Homo sapiens: one gene and its partners. The protein of the gene in region 6 interacts with the protein of the main gene of each other region in a pairwise test. Each region holds a gene or a part of one and is shown on either strand. Other genes may lie near its edges.

Region 1 (3,500 bases), on a different chromosome or scaffold from region 6:
TGCAGCCACTAGCCATATGTGCCTATTTAAACTTAAATAAAGAGTAAAGAATTTTCATTTTTTTTTTTTTTGGAAAACAGGGTCTTGCTCTGTCTCCTAGACTTGGAGTGCAGTGGAGTGACCATAACTTACTTCAGCCTGAAACTCCTGGGCTCAAGCGATTCTCCTGCCTTAGCCTCCCGAGTAGCTAGGACTAATATGCGCCACTGTATCCGGCTAATTTTTTAAATTTTTAAAATTTTTTGCAGAGGCGAGGTCTTGCTATATTGCCCAAGCTGGTCTTGAACTCCTGGCCTGAAGCGATCCTCCCACCTTGGCCTTCCAAAGTGCTGGGATTACAGGTGTCAGCCACCACTCCTGACCAAAAGTAAATAAAATTAAAAACTCAGTTTCTCAGACCCACTAGCCACATTTTAAGTGACTAGTGGCTACTGTTTTGGACAGCGTTCCAACGTTATCACTGCAGAAAGTCCTATTGGACAGTGCTAGTCTGAAAACTTGGTTAATTTTATTTATTTATATAACAGTTACTCTTTGATAACAGCTAACTACTCTGATTAAAGTTAAATAATCTTTGGTAAGGTGCTTTCAAAGTTCCATTAGCTTTTCTAAGTGTTTTCAAAATGTTTCCAGCTTTAGGAAACTGCATGGTCTGTTATCCAGGAACCTAATATTTCCTACTACACGGGGATTTTTTCTTCTTTCAAGTTTAAGGTCCCAAGTTGTTTTTAACTATTACATTTTAAAATCTGCTCTTTTATGCTGGAAATTGTTTAAGTACTCAGGAAGGGAAGAAATTTTTTTGTTGTGGAACACCATAAACTCTCACTAACCATAGTGAGGTGGCCTTTCAGTTCAGCAAAGTTTTCTATAACTTTTCTCCCTGATTATTTATAAGCTGTATATTCCAACCTTTTCTACTTCCTCTGGTAGTCTTACTTTTTGAAAGCTTATACAACCTCATCAGGTTTTCTAGATACATTGGTTCTATATATATTGTTTTTCTGTTATAATGTTTTGTAATGTTTCTTTTACATGGTGAACTTTGAAAATTTCCCTATGACTTCTGTTCTGCAATTCATTTTATATGAGAACGTGAGTGGAAACTCCCGCCTTTTTTGAATCTTCAGTATCACCTATTTCTTGCACTGTGGCTCCTTCGTGCCCTATATTGCCACCATTGATATTTTTAGTTCTTTTTTTTTTTTAATTTCAGTACATTCCCTTCTACAGATGTTAGCTATTGTACCTCTTTGAATACCACATCAATTTGCTTCTATTTGCTTGAGTCACCAAGCAGTGAGGCCTGTGTGGGTGGGTTCCTGTTTCCTTCCAGCTCTCTCTTCCCTTCTAATGTTGTGACACTTATTAATTTTAATCAAGTTAGAGTTTTCCTCTGGTTTTCACACTGTTTGAGAAGCTGGTTTTTCTGGGATTTGTTGTCATTCCTATTTGTGTTAGATATCTACACTATAACTTGCTCTTGCTAGCTTTTCAAAAGCCTCTTTTAGAGATGTGTTTCCTCAAAATGGGTCCAGAATAAAAGGAGCCTAACACATGCATGTAGCTTGCATTTCAGAAGTTCCTTTTTGAGACTATTACTGGGAAATCAGAATGTTTCCACAAGAAGGAAAAATATAACAGACAACGGTTATGTCCTCAAACCAGTTCACAAAAGCAGTCTGAAGCACAATACCTCCATGGCAAAAATCAGTTAGTGTTTGAGCCATAAAGAAAGAAAAACTGGCAGGGAGATAAGAAGGGATCTTTCTTCTTAAGGACACTGCAAGTTTCTAAGACTTTGCTGTATTTTATAGAAATACCCAAAATCAATTTCCTATTCATTAAAGGATCTGAAGAGCATTGTGAAGTGAGGTCTGCAGAGTGAGACAGGAACACACAGATGAGGCTGAGAAAGTGCTGGGGTTAGAAGACTAACAAAAGCTGTCTGCTGTCTCCCACCACTTCTCCAGACCTTGCCCTAGATCAATTCCAGGACACGATCAGAAATGAGATTGGGTTGTTTATTCATTTTTGTAGATAAGGGGTTTCAAGTAGAAGAAAGATCTGGAAGAGAATGGGAAGAAAAGGGAATTCCTGTGGTCCATCAGGAAGTCCCAGATGCACAATGGTAGGTAAATGTCATATACAGCAATGTACATATGTTGAAGATAGCCTGTATCAATCTCAACAGTTAACCTCTTTGCAGAGCAATCTTTAACCCATTTGAAATCTCACTGTCAATCACAGAGGCATATCCAATCATGAGTATTTGAAAGTGTCTTTGGCCGGGCGCAGTGGCTCACACTTGTAATCCCAGCAATTTGGGAGGCCGAGGCTGGCGGATCATGAGGTCAGGAGATCGAGACCATCCTGGCTAACATGGTGAAACCCCGTCTCTACTAAAAATACAAAAAATTAGCCGGGTGTGGTGGCGGGCGCCTGTAGTCCCAGCTACTCGGGAAGCTGAGGCAGGAGAATGGCGTGAACCCGGGAGGCGGAGCTTGCAGTGAGCCGAGATCGCGCCACTGCACTCCAGCCTGGGCGATGGAGTGAGACTCTGTCTCAAAAAAAAAAAAAAAAAAGAAAGTGTCTTTGCTATAATTACAGTCTTATGTTAACCAAAGATATTTAGAAACCCAAATTCTCTCAAACATAATTTTAAACTGCCATAACTGCATTAGTCCACTAATTTTTAATCTAACTATACTTGACAAATATGCAAAGATAACATCTGCCTCATCAATGAATATCATGGACTCCAAAAATGAATAAAGTAGAAAACACCCACAACTCATTACAGAGGAACTCGTTTTTTAAAAACTGACATATAATTCACATGCCACAAAATTCACAATTTTAAACTGTACAATCTAGTGGTTTTTAATATGTTCACAGAGTTGTGCACCCACCACCACTATTTCAAGAACAATATCATCACCTTAAAAGGAAATCCTGTACCATTAGCAGTCACACCCCACTCTCTCTCCCCACAGCCCCTAACAATTCCTCTACTTTCTGTCACTATGGATTTGCCTATTCTGGATATTTCTTATAAATGAAATCATACTATTTGTGACTTTTTGTATCTGCCTCCTTTCACATGCATTTTTTCAAGATTTATCCAGGCATATATCAGTAATTCATTTGCCTTTATTAATTTTATGAATGTTTATATCCATAGACCACATTTTATCCATGAGTAGCATTTTATTTATAGATACTTTTTTTTTTGGAAATGGGGTCTTGCTCTGTCACCCAGGCTGGAGTGCAGTGGCACGATCATGGCTCACTGTAGCCTTGAACTCCTGGGCACAAGTGATCCTCCCACCTCAGTCTCCTGATTAGCTGGGACTACAGGCATGTGCTACCATGCCTGGCCAATTTTTTAATTTTTTGTAGAGATGGGGTCTCGCTATGTTTCCCAGGATGGTCTTGAATTTCTGGCCTCAAGCAATCCCCCCATGTCAGCCTCCTAAAGTGCTGGGATTACAGGTGTG
Region 2 (3,500 bases), on a different chromosome or scaffold from region 6:
GAGTGCAATGGCGTGAACTCAGCTCACTGCAACCTCTGCCTCCTGGGTTCAAGTGATTCTCCTGCCTCAGCCTCCCAAGTAGCTGGGATTACAGGCACCTGCCACCACACCCAGCTAATTTTTGTATTTTTAGTAGAGACGGGGTTTCACCATGTTAGCCAGGCTGGTCTCAAATCACCTCTGATGATCCACCTGCCTTGGCCTCCCAAAGTGCTGGGATTACAGGTGTGAGCCACCGCTTGGCCAAAATCTACTTTTTAAAAGCAATTTTGAAGTATACAATACACTGTTAGTAACCATAGTTACCATGTTTTAAATAGATCTCTTGAACTTATTCCTCCTGTCTAAATGAAATTTTGTATCCTTTGACCAACATCTTTTCCAACCCCATATCCAGTCTCTGGTAATCACCATTGTACCTTCTATTTTTAATGCTCATTAAAAAGAAAATATACATATATATACTAGAGGCAGAGAGCTTTAAAATAAAATCCAAGTTCTTACCATAAAAAATCTAGTCCATTCCTATAGTCCTCACCAATCTCATCTCAAGCTACTCTTTCCCTCACTCACCACGTTATTATCCTGCTTTTAAGGAAATGTTTTGCCTTAGAGCCTTCCCCCTTGATGTTCCCTCTATTTAGGACACCCTTCCTTGCAAGTCTTGCTCCTTCCTATTCTTTGGTATCAGCTCAAATGTCACTTCCTCAGAAAGGCCTTCTTTGACTACCCTGTCCATATGAGATCCCATTGTTCCACCGAATTGTTACTTTCTATCACAACAACCTGTATTATCACATACATATTAGACATTAAAATTCAAAGAAAGCAAGGGCCTTGCTGTTTTGCCCATTGAGTATATCAAGGGTGAAGCACAACACTGTCCATAAATACATTTTGCATCAATGTTGATGAGATGTAATGGGAAGCCAACCAAAGAATTCAGTAGTTCTGATGTATAAGTCCTTACACATTTTCTAAACTGTATTTGAGAAGACTGAAAAATATAAACAAAAATGTCTTACCTCCTGCAATTACAAAATGGCTTAAGGCATCTTTATTTCGGTATACATTCAGACTAGTGTTCACTGTGCTGGTAAAAAGGGAGGAGAAGGAAAATATAAGATTTAAAGCATATCCCATTTACCTTCTTGAGTGTTATTTTCACTGACTTAATAGATTTAGAAAAGCCTACTATATCAATCCCTGTTCCTAGCCTAGGCCCCTTCAATGTGTTCCAGACATGGTTGTAAAACCATAACTACACCAGTCTTTTACACAGAGAAAAGTTCTTGAAAAAAAAAAAAAGGCATTATTAATCACTTTCATGTGGGTATTCAGTTTTCATAACCCCACCTGCTCAAAAGACACACTCCTAAAACAATATCAAGAAAATTCACTATCTCACAATTCAGAGTGAACTTACTTGAATATAGTCACAAACACTGCAGTTCTCCAACCCCAGCGCCAGCCATAACGAATGAAGCCTCGTGTGGCAGCACGATGTGCAGATTGCTAAAGTTAATTAAAAAACTGTGAGGTTCTAAGACACCATCATATTTTCCTTATTCTAGAACTGCGGTAGAGGAATTTTAGCTATGGATTAGTCAGGTACACCCAAACAGATAGAAATACTAGAAAATCTCTAGAAATACTATTCTTTAAGTATTGAGGCTTACGTAAAAGTTCCATGTGTAGCCTATCCTATCAGGAGATGAAAAAATGGTTGAGTATCCCTTATCTGATACTTGAGACCAGATCCCTTATCTGATACTTGGATTTAGGATTTTTTCAGATTTGGGAATATGCGCTTTTAACACTTACTGGTTGAGCATCCCAAATCCAAAAAACCGAAATCTGAAATGCTCCAATGAGCAATTCCTTTGAATGACGTGTCAATGCTCAAAAAGTTTTGAATCTGAGCATTCAGGATTTCAGATTTGTGCTGCTCAACCTGTAATGAATTATAAATCTACAGAATAAAATAAGAATCCATGAGTCCCTACTGATAGAAATAAATTATAAATAGATAAATAAATATGTAAATAGAGGGGGGAAGGGAAAACACTTCCTTAGAGCATAATACTAACCAATAAATGTAGAAAGAATGATAGACTTTAGAAAATGCCCATTTGGCCACCACAGTCATAATTGTTACAGGAAGAATCATCATTAAATGCTAAAACTGCCTGGGTATGGTGGCTCACACCTGTAATCTCAGCACTTTGGGAGGCAACTAGGGAGGATCACTTGAGCCGACAAGTTTAAGACCAGCCTGGGCAACATAGCGAGATCCTGCCTTTACAAAAAAAATTTAAGAATTAGCTAGGCATGGTGGTGTGTGTTTGCAGTCCTAGCTACTCGGAAGGCTGAGGCGGGAGGAAACCTTGAGTCCAGAAGTTTGAGGTTGTGGTGAGCTATGATCGCGCCGCTGCACTCCAGCCTGCACTGAGGCAGGAAGACCCTGCCTCAAAAAATTTCAAAAAAAAAATTAATTAATTAAAAAATAAAAATAGGCTGGGCACAGTGGCTCACACCTATAATCCCAACCCTTTGGGAGGCCAAGGAGGGGGTGAACTGCTTGAGCTGAGGACTCTGAGACCAGCCTGGGCAACATGGCAAAACCCTGTCTCTACAAAAAATACAAAAATTAGCTGGGAATGGTGGCACATGCCTATAGTCCCAGCTACTTGGGAGGCTGAGACAGGAGAATCGAGTGAGCCTGGGAAATGGAGGTTGCAGCAAGCCAAGATTGTGCCACTGTACTCCAGCCTGGGCAACAGAGTGAGACCCTGTCTCAAAAAATAAATAAAGGAATAAATAATTTTTAAAAAAATAAAAAAATTATAAATGCTAAGAATTTAGAATAGTTTTTAGATAGTAGAAATATTATAGTTTATAATAGCATTTAAGTAGTAGAAATTTGATGAAAAGCAGGATATTTACATAGTCTCAAAGGAACTAACAAGTACTCAAAATACTTATAAATTACCAAGGAAAAACATAGTAATTTTACAGTGTATAGTTGGCAGAGGCCATCTTAAGCAAGTCACTGAAGTAAACATCACCAGTAAAGGGACAGAGATATCATGGGTTTCTAATTTAATTTCAGTTCTAGGGTATTCCTGTCAAAAAACATAGTCTGAATGCAGTCATGAGAAACCATCAAACAAACCCAAATTGAGGGACATTCTACAAAATAAATCACCCATAGTCAAGGCCATGAAAGACAAAAACAGAGAAACTCTTCCAGACTAAATGAGACCAAAGCAGCATAACAGGCAAATTCAACATGTGATCCAGGGTCAGATTCTGGACCAGACAAAAAAAAATTTAATTAATTAATTTTTTAATAAGAACTCAAGCCTAACTTCTGAAAAATACATTTTTTTATTTATTTTTAAAATAAATGATACTGTGGGATAACTAGCAAAATTTACAGGTCTTTAAATAAGATAATAGTACTATATCTGTGTTAATTTCCTGATCTTGATATTATA
Region 3 (2,816 bases), on a different chromosome or scaffold from region 6:
CTCCCGCCTCCGCCATTCTGATCAGCAGCTCGCCTCATGCTAGCAGGGGGCACACCAAATCCTGATACTCCTCCTCTCCTACTGGGCAGCCAGCGGTACCTGGTGCAGAAAGACGGGGACACAAACGGAGAGAAGAGAACAAAGTCACTTCCACATAGTTATCTGACCTCCGAGAACACCTCCCTCTCCTGCTGTTCCCATGGCACTTGTCATGTTGAAGGCAGCGAGGGACGTCTTATTTAACTTTGTCTTTTCTGTACTCAGCCCCATGACCTGACCACAGACGGCATTCGTTTTTCATGTTTCTTAAATGTATTCAGATTTCAGCTAAATTCACACTCTGAACGTTTTTTTCTCTGCTTATAAAAGTAATCCATGCAGAACAGTATGGAAACAAAAATATTACACCCACAAGCCCAGCAACCAAAGAATGACTGATAGCATCTTGGTATATCTAAATATGGCTCAAACTGGATCAAAGGATACAAAATACATTCACTTTCAAAGGCCAAATCCACAGCCTGCATGTTTGAGCCTTGCACAGCATTTCTAAAAGGCTCTCAGCTGAGCCCATCAAAGGAGACAGGGGAAGAAGGCTTTCTATGTTGGAAGTATGGGTATGTTTTAAAATTTATTCAGAATCTGCCTTCCAGGTACATTCTTCCCTTCTCACAGATGGTGGGAGAGCTGGGGCCCCAGACGGTTAGATGATTTCCCACCTTAAAATTAATAAACTAAGAGTTCACAGAACAGCTAAGAGAACTTAAACCCAAGCCTACACTCTCAATAGTATTTTCCAACTATTTCCCATCTTTGACTCTTTTATTAGTAAACTGAGAATGTGTTTAAACCTATTCCACTTAGCAGATCCTAATGTTTAAAATTTTGCTTGAAGGCAGAGAGCATGATCTGATACCTCCGCTTAAACCCTTCTTGGCAGCAAGAGTAAGTCATGACAGGTGACTTGTCCACAGCAGAAACCCTGAAGAGGACAGGCTTTATACTTGACCTTATACTAGAGCAGTTACTATGTGAATTTACTCAGTGATTATTGCCTTACACTAGGTGCTGCCTGCTTATAAATTCATCTGATCTTCACAATAACCCCATGAGGTAGGCATTACTATTACTCCTGTTTTATAAACAAGAAAATTGAGCCAACACTGAGTGAAGCGCTTCGAAAGTGACAGGATTCCAACCTAGTCAGCCTGGTTCCAGAGCCTGCGCCCTGCACTACTTGTTATACTACATGCATCCTGCCTGGGAAGGGACAGCAGTCAGTGACTGGAGTCTGTTTACATCATACTCGATACCTTCATGCCTCTTCCCAAAACAGACAACAACTCGGGTTTTTGTTTTTTTGTTTTTTTTTGAGACGGAGTCTCACTCTGTCACCAGGCTGGAGTGCAGTAGCATGATCTCAGCTCACTGCAACCTCCACCTCCCGGGTTCAAGCAATTCTCCTGCCTCAGCCTCCCGAGTAGCTGGGACAACAGGCGCCCGCTACCATGTCCAGCTAATTTTTGTATTTTTAGTGGAGCCAGGGTTTCACCATGTTAGCCAGGATGGTCTCGATCTCCTGACCTCGTGATCCACCCGTCGGCCTCCCAAAATGCTGGGATTACCGACGTGAGCAACCACGCCTGGCCAAAAACCCCTTTTAAACACAAAATTTAGTGTGTACAGAGAAGATATAACTACTCTAAATGGAATGGAAAATGGTGATACAAATGTATCAGCATTCCATTTAGAAAAGCAGTTATACCTTCCTATACTCACCTCCTCCATTTTAAACAAATACAGCTTTACCATTAAATCAAAATGTATTTTCCAAGTGCTGGTTTCTCAACATCCATGCCTTCTGGTACAATAATATTCCTCCAAAGTACATAATAAAATAGAACACTTGCTGGAGAAAATGCTAGGGCTGTCTTGCTTTGCTACTCACTCTAAGACAATATGGAAGCCATCTCCACTGCTTAAGTAGATAGTGAAATTAAATGCAAATAATTAGTATAAAAAGATACCCAATTATACATAATCAACAAAAATTTATGGTAATTTCAAAGCAGTTACTGCTTTTGCAAGGAGCTGTATTTTGTCATCTGATCTTTATGCAAAATTTAGCAGAAGGACTTCCCCCAACAGAGAAAGTTCAAGTGGAAGGCAGGCTCCAGGGCTCGCTGATTTTGCCACTAGAATCTTGTATCCTGTGTTGCCCACAACTGAGAAGTAGCTACAAGCCGTTAAGTTAGAATATGGCCATTTAAAGTAAAGTAACTGTTGGCTGCCCCCCAAAAGCACCAAGCTTTTTTTAATTGATGCATCTGCCATCCTACTTGATAAACCTAGATCAGAAAGCCAAACCTGCTGTTATTATGTCCTTTGATAATTAGAAACCAGATTGGTCATTTGTTTTTTTAGCCTGAAGGCAATTCAAGGCTCAGAAGAGAAACAAGTTTCTTTTTATTCTCTTAAAGAAAAACACACACACCACAACCACCAATATGGTATATCTCTGTATATTACAGTTCACAATTTGAAAAGTCTTTGAAAAACATACCCCTACCCTATAAAAGGAAGGGGAGAAAGAGGAGGCCTGCTCAAGTTTTACTGCCCTCACTGATCCCTTAGAGGAATGACAGAACTGCAAAACATTAAAATTAGCAAGATGTGGAAGGGTTTGGTTTGTTTGTTTTTTTAAAGCTTTCAAATGCAAGCTATTACTGCATATCCCTGATATGAGATTAGGCATGATTGTCAGGCAGGCTGTGACACCCAGATGGTGATTTAACTGGCCCGTTCTTCGACAGCCT
Region 4 (3,500 bases), on a different chromosome or scaffold from region 6:
TAACCCACATGTCTATACAGTTTCATCAAGACAAGAAGGGGAAAAAGACTGACACAAAAGCAAAGGCTCATAGATTAATAATCACCTGAAACTGGAATAATCCCAATTTCAAATATCCTCTGTTTTTTTTTTTTTTCTTAGGCAAATATGGTAACTGTACCTGGTTGGAACATGGAGAAAGCCCCAAATAAATGGAGGCAGAGCTAGGATTAAAGACAGTCAGAATAAGGCACACAAGGGCTCTCCAGGAGCTATATCATAATCAGTCTAGAACCAATACTCTCCTCTTGACATTATATCCCTCTAGCCCTTCTGCTTCCTCTTTATTCTCCCTGCTCCTTCTCCTCCAGAAGTCTAAAATAGAAAACACAAAGCCAACCTAATTTCTTGGTGGTCGGGGTGGAGAGAATACAGTCCCACATAAATATAATATTTACAAAGTTCGTTGAACTAATAAAACTTTAGAAATCAGAGTATGATTCAGTAGAGTGGGTATTACTGCTAGACTTAAAATACCCACAGTCAGGTTATTCCCTTCTTTCCTTCGTATCTTCTCCCTTCTCCAATTCTCACATCACAATGTATTTACTAAATACTGTGTAGGTGACAAGCACTTGCAATGTACCTGGCACAATGAAGGATATAAAATAGTTTTTACCGCTACCAAGGCACATATAGTCTTAGTGGGTATGGGCACAATACAAGACTTACAAAAATGAGACAATTATAGAACAATCAAAACAATATATAGACACTACATCAAATTTCTACCAAAATGACAAATTTGGGGATACAAAAGACCAATACAGGCTAAAATAGCAAGGAAAATTAATATAGAATAGTTGTACTAGAGCTGGGCTCGAATAATGAATTATTCAGACGTCTTGGTAACCACTGAGCACTTTAACCCAGCAGCACTGTACAGACTAGAGAAATAAAAAAGAAACAATTCCTAACCTCAAGAAGCTTATAATAGGAGAAAGAAAGGAAGATGTGAAAAGAGACAGGGGGTGGGGACAAAGAAAAGGAGCAAAAATATAGAGAAGATGGAGTCATAAAAAGGAGAAAGTATGAGTGAAAAGAAGGGAAAAGAAGCGAGTACCAAATTAAGTTATGTTAAAATCAGTTGTCTCAAGCTTACAAAGATGTTGAAAAGATTAGAATAGAAACATTAAAAAAAGGTACACAGCTTTTTTTTTCTTACGGCAGTGGGACTGTCAAAGACATATTTTCATCTATTTTATGCATTTGCCTAAGGTCCTAAAGAGAATAACAAGAATGAATTCTGATTAATAGTGACATGACCATGGTCCTTAACAAAGAAAGGGCTGCTAAAAATGACTTACGTCATCAGGTTATGGGGATAAGCCCTCCATAAGATAGTTGGGTCTGAGATGTAGTTTTCCTAAGAAAGAAGATATAAAAATTAACCTGTGAGCATAATGCAAACTTCTTGGAAAATAAGGCATTACTTTCATTTCTCAAACATTTACAGGTCCCATACCAGGTTGCAAAGAACCCACTAATGTCAAAATCCTTAGTTGTTTTAGTTATTTTCAAGCCAATTTGAGTTGGTTACTTGAGCAAAATGAAAATCAATGATAGAAATGAGATATGGAATCAGGTAAGACATAATTCCTGGCCCTAAAAAATCTTTCAATCCCATAGAATAAAAATACACGTACACAAACAAACATAAAACCACCAATAAGAGGCACAACAGTGACCAGGAGAGAAGAATTTTGTCTTAGGTAATCAGAAGATTTCAGGAAAAGTTTGTAGCATCTGACAGGAGACAAAGGATCAGGGTGCTACCGAGTTTTATGGAATTACGTCAATAAAATACTGCCCCAATTTTTTTCTTAGATAATCAGATCTACTCAGTGAGAATTACTGCATATGTAAAAAAAAAAAAAAAAAGATTAAAAAATAAATAAAATCTAAAGTGATTTTTGTAAGAGTATTTTCCCACAGAAGTATAACTTTTATGTTTTTTTAAAAAAATGTATAATAGTTTTTAAACTAAAATTTACATATTACCTATAAAGTATTATTAAAGCAGCACAGTAAAATGGAATGAGCAATGGAATAAAAAGCTGAGTTTTAGTCTACTTCCAACATGAAGTGCTTTACCCTGGAAAACTCACTGTTATTCATCTCTAATACAGTGATTAGAAAGAATTATGTGTCTGACAAACTCAAAAGTATGTAAACTATGGAACACCATATAAATTTAAGGGATTGTTATCACTAATATTAAAGCAAATACTGCCTTTCTTTTTCTCATTAGTTAGAGTGATACAACTAAAGGTTTTGATTGCCATAACTGAAAAGTTATACAACATTTAAGAAGCTTGGAAAACACTGGGGCTGTTTTTAAAGGAGGAAATGACTGTGAACATTACAACTCATGTAACCTACGCTTTTTGCTGATACAGAGGTATCTGTAAACCACTATAAGATACAAAAGTAAGGCCGGGCTTGGTGGCTCAAGCCTGTAATCCCAGCACTTTGGGAGGCCGAGGCGGGTGGATCACGAGGTCAGGAGTTCGAGACCATCCTGGCCAACATGGTGAAACCTTGTTTCTACTAAAAATACAAAAATTAGCTGGGCGTGGTGGCGTGCGTCTGTAGTCCCAGCTACTTGGGAAGCTGAGGCAGGAGAATCGCTTGAACCCGGGAGGCGGAGGTTGCAGTGAGCCGAGATCATGCCACTGCACTCCAGCCTGGAGACAGAGCGAGACTCTGTCTCAAAAAAAAAAAAAAAAAAAAAAAAGAAAGATATAAAAGTAACATTCAGAGTGACTAAAAATGAATAAGCCTTTCTGAAACAGTAAACATAGTTTAGAATTTTTGCTGTATAAAAAAATACCTAAAACAGATTTATCACTGAAACTCTTAACTTAATACTATTTCATTAGCAGAGTTTCTAATCTTAGATAAGGAAGGAGAACAACAACCTAAGAGGACATACTTACAGAGATGAGAATGAATGTGCCCCAAACACAGGCAAAAAGGTAGAACGCACTAAGCTGACCAGATTCATTAAACTTGCTGTGTTTTGTTTTGGAGAAGTGCATTCGCCTGTTAATTTTCTAAAAATAAAAACAGCCATTAGTAATTAAGAATAAATTATAAATTATATTTAATATATGACTAGCAGATTATGGAGAGCTAGTACTTTATAAAGTATAGATTTCTAAGACTGCATACTTACATCCAACATATACTCTTGAATTACGGCATGAATAATTATCGCCACTAGCATGTAGAAGAAAACAGTAGCCAAATCTTTGATGCCATAGTAATAAAGGGACACTGATTCAGTAGCTTGTTCTTCTGAAGACCAAAAAGGACACAAATACACAAAAATATACACAAGGTTATAAAAACAGCATTAAGTACAACATAGTTATGGAAACAAAGAAGAATAACCTAATAAAAAAGTTCTATATTAACATCATAAATAACGTGGTCTTGGACATCTTGAGTCTTAGAGG
Region 5 (3,500 bases), on a different chromosome or scaffold from region 6:
TTTGTTGTTGTTGTTGTTTGTTTGTTTGTTTGTTTGTTTGTTTGTTTTACTGCAAATTGAATCACTGGAGTTGTCCCTGTGCTTAAAACCCAATCCTTCAAGTTGGCTTCTTTTTTCCCTCAGGATGGAATCCAGTCTCCTACATAAGACTTCAAGGTTCATAGTCAGGCCCCTGCCTAAGCCTTTGGCCTTACCTTGTACCATCTTCACTTCAAATCCCATTCATTAGCCACTGAGTTTCTTCAAAACTCCATGGTCTAACCTGAGCCAGGTGTGGAGGAAAAACCCTGGGCAGAAGTGAGTTCTAGTCCAGCTCTCCTACTTCTCTGCTGTGTAACATTGGGTTCTTTCAAGTATAACACTCTATGCCAATTCATACCTGGTCTAATGTCTTCATCTGCAATGGTGTCTTTCTTCCCTCCAGAAGAGAGAATATAAAATTTGGAGCACAGGTTGGGAAGGGTTCTGTGGACACTTCTCTGCCCACTGATAATTACGATAAGGATAATGATAGTGAATGTTTGCTGAGAGCTTACCATGCATCAGGTACTGAGACAAGCACTTTATGTGCGTGACTCATTTCCTTTGCACAAAACCCAATCAGGTAAGTATATAGTCATCCTGTTTTATGAAGGGATAAAGAACTGCATCTCAAAGGGGTGATAGTAACTTGATAGAGGTCACATAGCTCATGACCGATAGAACAAAGATCTGATCCTGCATTAGCCTGGTTTTTGAGTGCTCTGAACCACTTTGTTTAACTAAATAACTAGAGGGACAGGGGATGCATAGCCCACTTCTTAAAAGTGCTTTGTGGAAAGATAGGTTCAAACTGTTACTGCGTTTGGAGGGTCTTGGGTATAATCATGCTTATCTGTACCTTTTAAAGTAAGGACTAGTCCAATTCCCCAAAGTCTAAACACAGAAATCACCAAAGCACTAATGGCATCCCTCAATAACAGCTCTTTTGTCTTCAGGTCCCCAGGCTGACCTGAACAAACACACCTGTGTATGTTTCCTCAACAGCCCCCCCAGTGCATTTTCTCCATGAGTGTGTCTGATTGAAGTAGGTTCCAACCATTCAATATTCCCCAACTTCCATGCCCTGTGACAACTGCGAAAAATTTCCATCCAACCTATAATGTCTTCATGGCTGAGGGTGGCCAGATAGTGCAGGTTAGGGATGAAAGAGAGAAGGCATGAAGTATGTTGCTGACCTATGAGATACCTCTAGTGGGGGATGCCTCAGACACTGCCACTCTTGTTAAGCTGCAAGTAAAGTAGAGGGAGAGTGTCGCTATGGGGAAGTAAGCTGTCTCTCACCTACCCATCACTTATCCACTCACCCACTCTCACTCAACAATTTAAGTAACTACCAAGTGCCTAGCACCATTTTAGGTTATAATAGATTTTAGAGAAGCATGAGACAAATTCTCTGCTTCAAGGAGCTCATGGTCTGGTGGAGAAGACAAGAAATGCACAATTGAGAGATTAGCATTAAGCATTAAGTTGGCTCCTCACAGAAGACAGGCCACAAGGGAGATTTTGTGTCATTAGTCACAATGTGACTCTAGAGTGATCCCAGACCTTCAACTACACATACTACTAAAGAAAAATAGTGTGTGGAAACATGGATCCACCGTGGTGCGGGGGCAGGCGGTGGGAGGCGGTGCTGACATCCTCTGCCTGGGACCCTGGAAGTTAGTTTCTGCTTGTCAACACATGTCTCTTATTGACCCTGCCATAAATGAGTGAAAGAGTTGAAAGGGCTGAGTCCAAAAAAGGATGAACCAAGGAAGATGACCCAGGAACAGAATACCTACAGTGCCTTCTGAAATATTCTACCATAGCTAAATGGTGAGCATTTGTAGCTGGCCAGAAATAGATGCACATCAATTACAAGAGAGTCCTCCCCAAGAAGGGATTCATAGACCAAGAAAAAGGCCAACAAGAGGGATTATCTTTATGCACTGGGGAATCTCAGGACCAGAAGCTACTGTTTCCATCCTCCTTTCTCAGGCAGGACCATACTTCACCTAAAAACATGATAGCATTTGCTCCTGCCAAGAATGACTCCAGAAGCTGCAGAACACATATTTCTGCCAGCTTTGGGGGTCTGCTCATGTGAAGTTCTTTGGCCCTTTCAATCTGGGAAAAGAAAAAAAGTCACCTTGTCCTTGTACACCAGTACATTCTCCTTGTTTTTTGTTTTTAATAAAAACTGGCCTGTGCCAGAGCAACATACCATGTGACACTGCCAATCAGGGAGGCTCCAACCATGAGGTAGCAGACACAGAGCCCAGGAAACCAGGAAGAAAAATTAGGCCATGAAAAGCTATCACCAGGATAACTTATGCCTCTTCCTAGCTCATGTGGTGTAAGATGGAAATGAATTCAGCTGCACCTAAATCAAAGGGATGACAAGCAATTCAAACCCCTATCTCGCTCAAAATGAGCAAGAGCTGCTGACAGGTGAAAGCCAAAGAATTTTGGTGCAGATAAGTGGAGAGTGTAAGAAAGAAGTATATCCTTGAATTTTGTGAACGTTTTAGAAACATGATTTCAGAAATGTAAAATCAGGTGCTGAATTACTGCAAAAGGACAACAGCTCAAAGTGTTGTTTCTTACTTAAGCATCTTAATAATAACAATAACAATCATTACAGTTAACATTTAAAGAGTACTCACTTTTCCCAGGGACTCTTTCAAATGTCTTGTCTCTATTACCTTAATTAATTACTGTGACCCAATTATGTTGGTATTAACATCCACTTACAGGTGAGAACCCCCAGGTGATAGAGGTTAATTAACTTGCTCATGGTCACATAGCTAGTAAGTGTTAGAGTCAGGATTCAAATCCTGGAAGTCTAATTCCAGAGCCCACAGGTTTAACTACCATATGGTGTTGTTTTTAAAGGGTTTAAATAGGTGACTAAATATTGATATATGTCATTCATAAAACTCATGGTGAGGCTCAACAACAGAGGAGTCTTCTCACTTATTATGAGGTGAACACGATTATTACAGTCCCTTATTTGTGCCTGAAATAACTGATGAGCAGGTTAAGTGCCCTGCCCAGGGACATCCAGGCCTCACCTGCCTCTGTCTATCAGAAAAGCATTGATCAGGGTTTTTTTTGTTTTTTGTTTGTTTGTTTGTTTGTTTTTTGAGATGGAGTCTCGTTCTGCCACCCAGGTTGGAGTGCAGTGGCACGATACTGGCTCACTGCAACCTCTACCTCCCAGGTTCAAGCAATTTTCCTGCCTCAGCCTCCTGAGTAGCTGAGACCACAGGTGCATGCTGCCAGATCCTAATTTTTTTGTGTGTTTTAGTAGAGATGGGGTTTCACTGTGTTGCCCAGGCTGGTTGTGAACTCCTGAGTTCAAGCAATCTGCCCACCTCAGCCTCCCAAAGGGATGGGATTACAGGCGTGAGCCACCGCGTCTGGCTAATCAGCTCATTTTTTAAAGGCAGCTCTCATGAGTCACTCCTGTGTCTGTC
Region 6 (3,500 bases):
GGGTATGTGTCTGACTCCTCCCAGCCTTCCTGACTTTCCTAAGTTTGAAGACAGCAAGCTTGTAGATCAAATCTGTGATCAAACCCATTATCTTGAAAAAAATGTGTTTGCCTTTTCTAGCTCCACCCCTCTTTCCAACTTGGTCGCAGAGAGTACCAGATCATCTAAACAACAGATTTTAAGACAAGTAGTCATCGTAGCGCCTAGTAAAGCAGGACACACCAGGTGACTAGAGAGCAAGAATCTCCTAGGCATGGAGATTCTTGAGTCTCGGGGCACAAAACCAAGTGGGGAATAACTGTCCATGAGCCTGAGAATCACTTGGTGCTATGGTCTGAGTGCCCTTCAAACTTCATGTGTTGGAATTTAATCCTCACTGCCGTAGCATTAAGAGGTGGGGTCTTTTGAGAAGTGATTAAGTGATGAGAGCTCCACCCTCAAAGCAAGCGCCTTTCCAATGCCTTCATACATGGTCTGAGCTCCCATCCACCTCCCAGCCAGGCCCTGCTGATCAGAACGGCTATGTGAAGCAGGAGGCAGCAAACAGGGCCCCAGGCTCAAATAGGCACTTCGTAGTGGTCTAGTTTTGCCCGACTAGTTACCCTTAGCCTTGATTAAGGTACTTAGTTTTACCAAAAAAATCATCAGAAATACTCTGGCTGCCATGGAATGTAACATGTCCTCATTACGAGTTTCACGTGGGGAAGGCCCTGAGGTGAGGAGAGGCCCAGCCTCTTCGTGCCACTTTTACCTGCTGTCCCTAGGTCAACACCCCGGACACAAAGAGTCCCCCATTCAGTCGCTCCCTTGTGAGCTGGACTCTGAAGGTCCTCTCCCAGAGGAGGGCAAGGCCTTACCGTTACATCTCACTCTCCATGCAAACAGACCGTGAGATAGTCATCTGTTTGCCTGAGAGTATGTGGTGTGTGAGGGTCTTCTGATATTTCAGGCAGCCCTCTCCTACTCTCCACGCTGCCTCTGGAGGTCAGGAGAAAACTATGTGGCTTCCCTAACACAGACAGGGCTTTGGGATCCAGGCCACAGACTGAGGAGGAATCAAAGTCACAGGGGGGAGACTGAGCCCACTGAGCTCGGTGTCCATGGCTAGCCCATGGCTCCTTTCACAGCACCTGCCCCCTCAACCCCCCACTCACAAGGACAGCAGCAAGGAAAAGCCAGCAATGTAGAGATTCCTCTGGGCACGGAAAAGCTTCATGTGGAAGTGCTCCATGGCCCCGGGATTGTTCTGGAGGTTCACCTTTTCCGTCACATCATCATACTTCCGAATTTCGCGCACGGCATCTGTGGTGGAGCAGAGAGGAGACACGGGCATTTAGCGGACACTAGGGCAAGATAAGGCCATACCAGGCAGACAGGCGGCATGAGACAGGTCAGACTCACTTCCCTCAAATCCGCCTCCCCAGTTCTTCCCACTTCTATGCACATACACCCCTCATGGGATGCTGTTATCAGAAGCTCCCACCCTCAGGCCAGGTGCAGTGGCTCACGCCTATAATCTCAGCACTTTGGGAGGCAGAGGCGGGCAGATCACCTGAGGTCAGGAGTTCGAGACAAGCCTGGCCAACATGGCAAAACCCCATCTCTACTAAAAATACAAAAAAAAAAAATTTAGCCCGGCGTGGTGGTGGGCGCCTGTAATCCCAGCTACTCGGGAGGCTGAGGCAAAAGAATCATTTGAACCCGGGAGGCGGAGGTTGCAGTGAGCCGAAATTGAGCCACTGCACTCCAGACCGGGGGACAAGAGCGAAACTCCATCTCAAAAAAAAAAAAAAGGAAGCTCCCACCCTCAGACCCACTCCTTCCTCCAGCTTTTCAATCCCTGGCCCCATTCTACACAGGCCCCAGGCTTGCTCTGCAGTTCACGATGCTAACCAAGCCTAAAGAGTTTCTGGAAATGGGGGTGGCTTCCTTTTCCCATGGTACCCTCACCGCGTCTTGTTCTGTTCATCTCAAGTTGGCCCATAGCCCCCCAACCCCCACAATGATAAGTTGAACCTGGAGATGGAAATGCCTGCTCCGGGGACCTAAGGTGCTTAAGAGTCAAGACCCAGGCCAGATGTGGTGGCTCACGCCTGTAATCCCAACACTTTGGGAGGCCAAGGCAGGAAGACTGCTTGAGGCCAACGAGTTCAAGACCAGCCTGGGCAACACAGGGAGACTCTCTCTCAACAAAAAAAAAAAAAAAAAAAAAAAAAATTTTAAATAGCTGGGCATGGTGCTGCACACCTGTAGTCCCAGCTACTCGGGAGGCTGAGACAGGAAGATCGCTTGAGCCCAAGAGGTCAAGGCTGCTGTGAGTTACGATCACACCACTGCATTCCAGCCTGGGCGACAGAGCGAGACTCTGTCTCGAAAAAGCCAAAACAAAACAAGCAAACAAACAAAAAAATAGGAGTCAAGACCTGCAGGATACCAGCTAGGAGTCAAGGGTTTCATTTCAAAGCTTTACAATGGGTTTTATTATCTATAATGTTTTATTCTGATTACGAAAGGAATTCACACTCATCGAAAGTTCAAACACACCCAAAATGTAGAAACGGAAAGGATCCCATAACATAATCACATCTAGCAGTATATACAATAAAAATGTGGTCACATCTAAAGTCATTTTTAGTCACATTACACTGTTACCTGCTTCGTAATAGACATCCATCTCTGAAATTCTCTTTAAACACATTTTTTGGGTCCATCTCTCCCAAAGTAGACTACAAACTTCATAAGAGCAGAAATCTTTTATACTATATTCCCAGGGCCTGGGATAGCTCTGGGTGCAGAGTGGGCACTGAAATAATTGCTGAGTCAGTGAGCAGCCTCTGCTCCTGAAAGAGCCGCTGTTAGACATATAGAGCTCCAGTTAAAAATATATTTATATTTGTCTCTAATGTAGAAATTGAGCCACGCCAAACCTACTGCTTTTCCCCATGCATCCTGAGACATCGTTTTAAGTCAATACACTAAGATGTACCCAAAGAATGCTCTTAATAGACTCCCATATGAGAGGAGCAAGGTATCACTGTATGGGTATCGAGGTTCTTTTTGTATGGTGGGTTACAGGGTCTCACTCTGTCACCCAGGCTTGAGTGCAGTGGCACGATCCCAGCTCACTGCAACCTCCACCTCTCAGCCTCCCCAGTAACTGGGACCACAAGTGTGTGCTACCACACTCAGTTAATTTTTTCTTTTTCTATTTTTGGTAGAGACGGGGTTTCGCCATGTTGCCCAGGCTAGTTTCAAACTCCTGAGCGCAAGCAACTGCCTCAGCCTCACAAAGTGTGGGGATTACAGGCGTGAGTCAGGGCACTGGCCTCATGGGGTTCTTAATTTCCGGTTTTAGGCTGCTTAGTTTTTATGTTGATCTTGCATTATAAAAATCTGCCCATCCCTCAGCACCACGAAGCGAGTACTCTCAAACGCTGTTAGCAGGGGTAAAAACAGCACACCTGTATAAAATGCAAAATGTTCATACCCTCGGGTTCAAC
Region 7 (4,161 bases), on a different chromosome or scaffold from region 6:
TCTTACAACTAAACGAAATATGAAAAATTCAGGGCATGAGAGAAGAGACAGAGAGGAACAAACTGAATAACTACCTTAAAAGTTGTGAGAAAATGTAAATTTAAAAAATTTTCCCAAATTAAATAGCACAATCTCTGTTGGTGACCATTTATAAATCAATCCCACTTGTATATGAATTATAAATTATATGCTAATATATCACTTCTAGTTTAAAAATAGCTTCCTATTTCATAAATGTTATTTTCATAAAAGTTTCAATTTAATGTACTTGTTTGCTCTGATAGTCATGAACTACCTGAATTTTTCATGGTGAAATTCTCTCTTAGATTATGTTTATTTTATATATATATATGGATTATGATAGTTCAGATGTTCTTCAAATTTTATACTTGATGTGAAATCCACACAAAATTAAGAAAGTAAGAAATAACTTAGATTTTTTTTCCAAACTTTTTGGTTTTCCAATGACAAAACCTAGACATATAAAGAGATATTCAATACAATCTATAACTCATACCATAATAATTTTACTCTTTTATGACTCTCAAACTGAAGGGATCCTATTCAGAAAGTTAAATTCTAAGGCATTTAACAACATACAATAGAAACATGTGACGTGTTTCCTGTATATCTGGTAAGGCCATGTGAAACACAATTTTTCATAAATTAAATTCTCATACAGGCCCACTCATTGCATATCCAGATTGAGAGTCACAAAATTATACTCAAAGATGAATTGAGCATCTTATATTAACAAGGTGCATGTACTGTGATGAATGTGAAAATATGGTAATCCATAATAATAGCAGTTAACATTAGGCTAACTTTTCACATTCATTTTCTCAAGGGATTAACCCCTATGACAGTCTCCAAATTTTAAAGGTCAAGTCACACACAGAGATGTTAAGGGACCTGCCTCAGGCAACAGAGCTACTAAACAGTAGATGTAGGATCTGAATCAAAATAATCTGACTCCAAAGCCTACCACTTTGAAAACTAAGCAATACTGCCTAACTTAATGCAGAAAATATGTTTTTTACACTTTTAGAATTGCAGTCCAGAAGGCCAGAAGGAAGTTTGTAATCATTGGTATTTTAGGTGATTGTCAGTTCCTATAAATAGTAGGAACTTAACTTTTAAAAACATACCTATTCTTAAAGCACCTTATGAAATATTTTGGAGAACAGAAATGAGTATGCTCTTAACACACTTAGCAGCCTTTGTAATACATTTTCTTTGCAAACCAGCCTGATAGCATTTTTTAACCTATATTAAATGTGTCAGGTGATTTGTAAAAAGAAAATTATATAAAAACCCACTTTGACAGATCAATAGTAAGCTATTTTAAAGTTCATTAGTATTTAGAACTATCCATGAAATATTCATTCTTCTGAAAACTGCATTTTTAGACTGGTTGGCATTTAGGTTCCTCAAAGTTCTCTGCTAAAAAAAGTCTATAATTTATGCCAATTAACATTTTGACTTTATAAGGACTAGGAAAACAGATCAATAGATAAGCCGATTTTATAGGTGGAGTAACAAAAGGTGGATAACATCAACACAAAAAGATAATTCCAAAGAGTAAAGTCCTTCTCTCTCATCCACAGGGAGGAGCTCTCCTTCAAGGGCCAACAGTCTCTCCTTAGCACCGGAGTTCCAGGATTAACTGCACATGCAGAGAACTAAACATAAGAGAGATGTGAAAGCTAAATTCCTTCCCCCCTACACACATATATGAGCTATTTATAACATATTTGACTTTTTTGATACCTCAGTATGCTTATTCATTGGGTAATTATGTGTCAAGTAATGTCCCAAGAGAGAGCAGTACCTATTCATTCATTCACACCAGTATAATAACAGGAACAAAGTAGATGCAATATCCAAAGAACACTTCAAATATGAAGTGCTACATCTAACAACACTTTGCCTAAGATTCCGAACTTAGATGCTATTTTAAAAAATCTCATTAAAGTTTGCAAGCTTCTGTGGCTCATCACATTAGGCTATGAATACAATTTATTAAATGTCAGTTGGATATAACTTCGGTATCTATTCCTATGGCTTTTAAAATTTATAGCTTGTGAAGTAACTTTTTTCAAAATAAATATTTCAACAAATTTGCTTTCAATTTTTGAAGAATCATTTACCTGTGACAAATACTAGATATATCCAGTCTCATAACAATAAATACTTTAAGCATATATTTTCTACCTACCCCAAAATTTTTGTTGGCTGAATTCAGTCAAGAAATGTTTTCTGAGCACTTACTATATGCAGGCATGGCACCTGTATGTGCCAAGAAGACAATCAAGTGTCCAAGGCATGAAGGGGGAAAACCAATAAACCATACTTAGGTACTTATTAACAAGTATTTTTAGTTTCTTAGAAAAATGAAATAAAACAAGTGCATAGTAGCGTACTTGAGTCTTGAGATTCTAACTTTTCAGTTGCAAGTAGATGTGGCTCTCTATTCAATCAGCTTCAGTTCATTCTTCCATCTCTTCTTAATGCTTTCTGTTTTATTCTACAATACCCACATTTTCTTTCAAAACAATGAATGATAGCGCATCTTTTTAAAAACTGCTTATTCCTTTACCCCAAACCCAACCCATACACACGCCCTCCTCTTTCGTGGGCACGTGTCTTTCCGAAGCTCGGTTGGCCACCTTCTCACCTGAAAAAAAGTTTGGAGACAACGCTGGCCTTTTCCAGAGGCGACCTCTGCATGGTCTCTCGGGCGCTGGGGTCCCTGCTAGGGCCGTCTGGGCTCAAGCTCCTAATGCCAAAGACCTACTACTCTGGGTGCCTGCCGCTCAACCCTTTTTCTCTGACCTGCTGTGATGTCATTTGCTTCCAATTCCCCCCACCCACCCCTACTCCGCACACCACCCCTTCCTTTTGCTCTTTCCCCCGCCTTCACTGCCCAGGTTAAAAGCCGAGTGCTGCCTGGTCCGGCCCCAAATTTGCTCTAGCGGCTTTCTCCACCCACTACGCACCCCCGCCAGCACCCCTCCCGCTCCTTCCTCCTCTCCTCCTTCGCTCCCTCGCCGCCCCGCACCTCCCTTTCCCGATTCTGACTCCCAGCCTCCCTCCCTCGCGCGCGCTCCTTCCAGGTCCGTGTCCTTACCGCCCAGCACCAGGCCCATCCCGCAGGTGGGCGACAGTCGCGGCCTCTCTTTAGGTCCAGTTGGCAACGCTGGAGGACAGAAGAAGCCACCGGCGGGAGAACCGGCTCCCCGGAGAGCTTCCTAGACCCTCCTTCGCGTCAGGGTCCGCCAGACCCAGGACCCGCTGCCACCAGCTTCCCCGGAGCCTGCCTTCCTCCTCCTCCTCCTTTTCCCGATGATCCTAGTCGGGTTCCTGTTACGTTTGCAAGGTGCATTTTGAAAAGGGAAGGAAAATGTGCCTTTCGTATATCAAAATACAGCCTTAGAGAGCCGAAAAGTTCCGCGGCAGTGTGGGTCTGATGCATTTACCTTAGCGCTTCCTTTGCGTGTCGGAGAAAAGAACCAAGCTTTATTAGTTTCAGGTTTAGGTGAGTGAACTCCAAGGGTGGCACAGAAATCTTAGGACACGTACTGAAAGAGAAAAAAAAATCTGCAAGGAGGTAAGAGGAGATAATGCTTTGCGTAATTACCGGCCCAGGATGTGTTCCTTGTCTATCCTTTTTAGCCCAGTGCGCATTTTTAAGGAAGGCTTTGGAGTGTTTTAGCGATAATGACAAGGAACAATGTAAACTAACCCGCCCTCCTATAGATTTCCTAGTCTCAGTCAGCAAAACATCTTGACTAATCCACCGAAAGGAAGCCAAGCAGTCTTTGAAGCGAAGGTAATGTGTTAACTTTGACCTGACTCAGAGAAACGCCATCTTCAACTCTCTGAGGGGCATCTGGGCATTCCCAGGCGTAGGCGCCTTCCTTCTGAGAATTTTGTGTAGGATTGCCTGTGTCTCTGACGGTTTTTAAAGAGCCAACCCTCTAATCCCTGAACCCTACTGTGTAAAAGCAAGCATACATTGTGTTTGAATTGAAAAATTCAAAGGAAAGTAAAAATTTTGGCCTGATTACTTTATTGCCGACACATCTAAGGCAAGGGTCTTGTGAATTATCTTGTTGTTGACTTGTGGTCACCCAAATACAGTACAAATAAAATGTGCAT

The links.
Region 1: the proteins of BCAP31 (region 6) and HACD2 interact in binary tests that used the Homo sapiens proteins (3 or more experiments, as listed by UniProt).
Region 2: the proteins of BCAP31 (region 6) and TIMMDC1 interact in binary tests that used the Homo sapiens proteins (3 or more experiments, as listed by UniProt).
Region 3: the proteins of BCAP31 (region 6) and DERL1 interact in binary tests that used the Homo sapiens proteins (3 or more experiments, as listed by UniProt).
Region 4: the proteins of BCAP31 (region 6) and TRAM1 interact in binary tests that used the Homo sapiens proteins (3 or more experiments, as listed by UniProt).
Region 5: the proteins of BCAP31 (region 6) and DRD2 interact in a two-hybrid assay, tested with the Homo sapiens proteins (one large-scale study listed by BioGRID and IntAct).
Region 7: the proteins of BCAP31 (region 6) and CFTR interact in binary tests that used the Homo sapiens proteins (3 or more experiments, as listed by UniProt).

The regions. Positions count from the first base shown.
Region 1 is NC_000003.12:123,575,054-123,578,553, forward strand, and holds part of HACD2 (very-long-chain (3R)-3-hydroxyacyl-CoA dehydratase 2), read right to left. Parts: intron 1-3,500. UniProt on the Homo sapiens protein: Catalyzes the third of the very long-chain fatty acids (VLCFA) elongation four-step cycle (condensation, reduction, dehydration, and reduction).
Region 2 is NC_000003.12:119,501,547-119,505,046, reverse strand, and holds part of TIMMDC1 (complex I assembly factor TIMMDC1, mitochondrial isoform 1 precursor), read right to left. Parts: intron 1,516-3,500; coding exon 1,427-1,515; intron 1,094-1,426; coding exon 1,026-1,093; intron 1-1,025.
Region 3 is NC_000008.11:123,015,487-123,018,302, forward strand, and holds part of DERL1 (derlin-1), read right to left. Parts: intron 100-2,816; coding exon 1-99. UniProt on the Homo sapiens protein: Functional component of endoplasmic reticulum-associated degradation (ERAD) for misfolded lumenal proteins. Forms homotetramers which encircle a large channel traversing the endoplasmic reticulum (ER) membrane.
Region 4 is NC_000008.11:70,594,917-70,598,416, forward strand, and holds part of TRAM1 (translocating chain-associated membrane protein 1), read right to left. Parts: intron 3,340-3,500; coding exon 3,218-3,339; intron 3,096-3,217; coding exon 2,979-3,095; intron 1,406-2,978; coding exon 1,347-1,405; intron 1-1,346. UniProt on the Homo sapiens protein: Involved in the translocation of nascent protein chains into or through the endoplasmic reticulum (ER) membrane by facilitating the proper chain positioning at the SEC61 channel.
Region 5 is NC_000011.10:113,465,399-113,468,898, forward strand, and holds part of DRD2 (D(2) dopamine receptor), read right to left. Parts: intron 1-3,500. UniProt on the Homo sapiens protein: Dopamine receptor whose activity is mediated by G proteins which inhibit adenylyl cyclase. Positively regulates postnatal regression of retinal hyaloid vessels via suppression of VEGFR2/KDR activity, downstream of OPN5.
Region 6 is NC_000023.11:153,714,388-153,717,887, forward strand, and holds part of BCAP31 (B-cell receptor-associated protein 31), read right to left. Parts: intron 1,303-3,500; coding exon 1,155-1,302; intron 1-1,154. UniProt on the Homo sapiens protein: Functions as a chaperone protein. Is one of the most abundant endoplasmic reticulum (ER) proteins.
Region 7 is NC_000007.14:117,478,664-117,482,824, reverse strand, and holds the start of CFTR (cystic fibrosis transmembrane conductance regulator), read right to left. Parts: upstream 2,801-4,161; 5' UTR 2,731-2,800; coding exon 2,678-2,730; intron 1-2,677. UniProt on the Homo sapiens protein: Epithelial ion channel that plays an important role in the regulation of epithelial ion and water transport and fluid homeostasis. Mediates the transport of chloride ions across the cell membrane.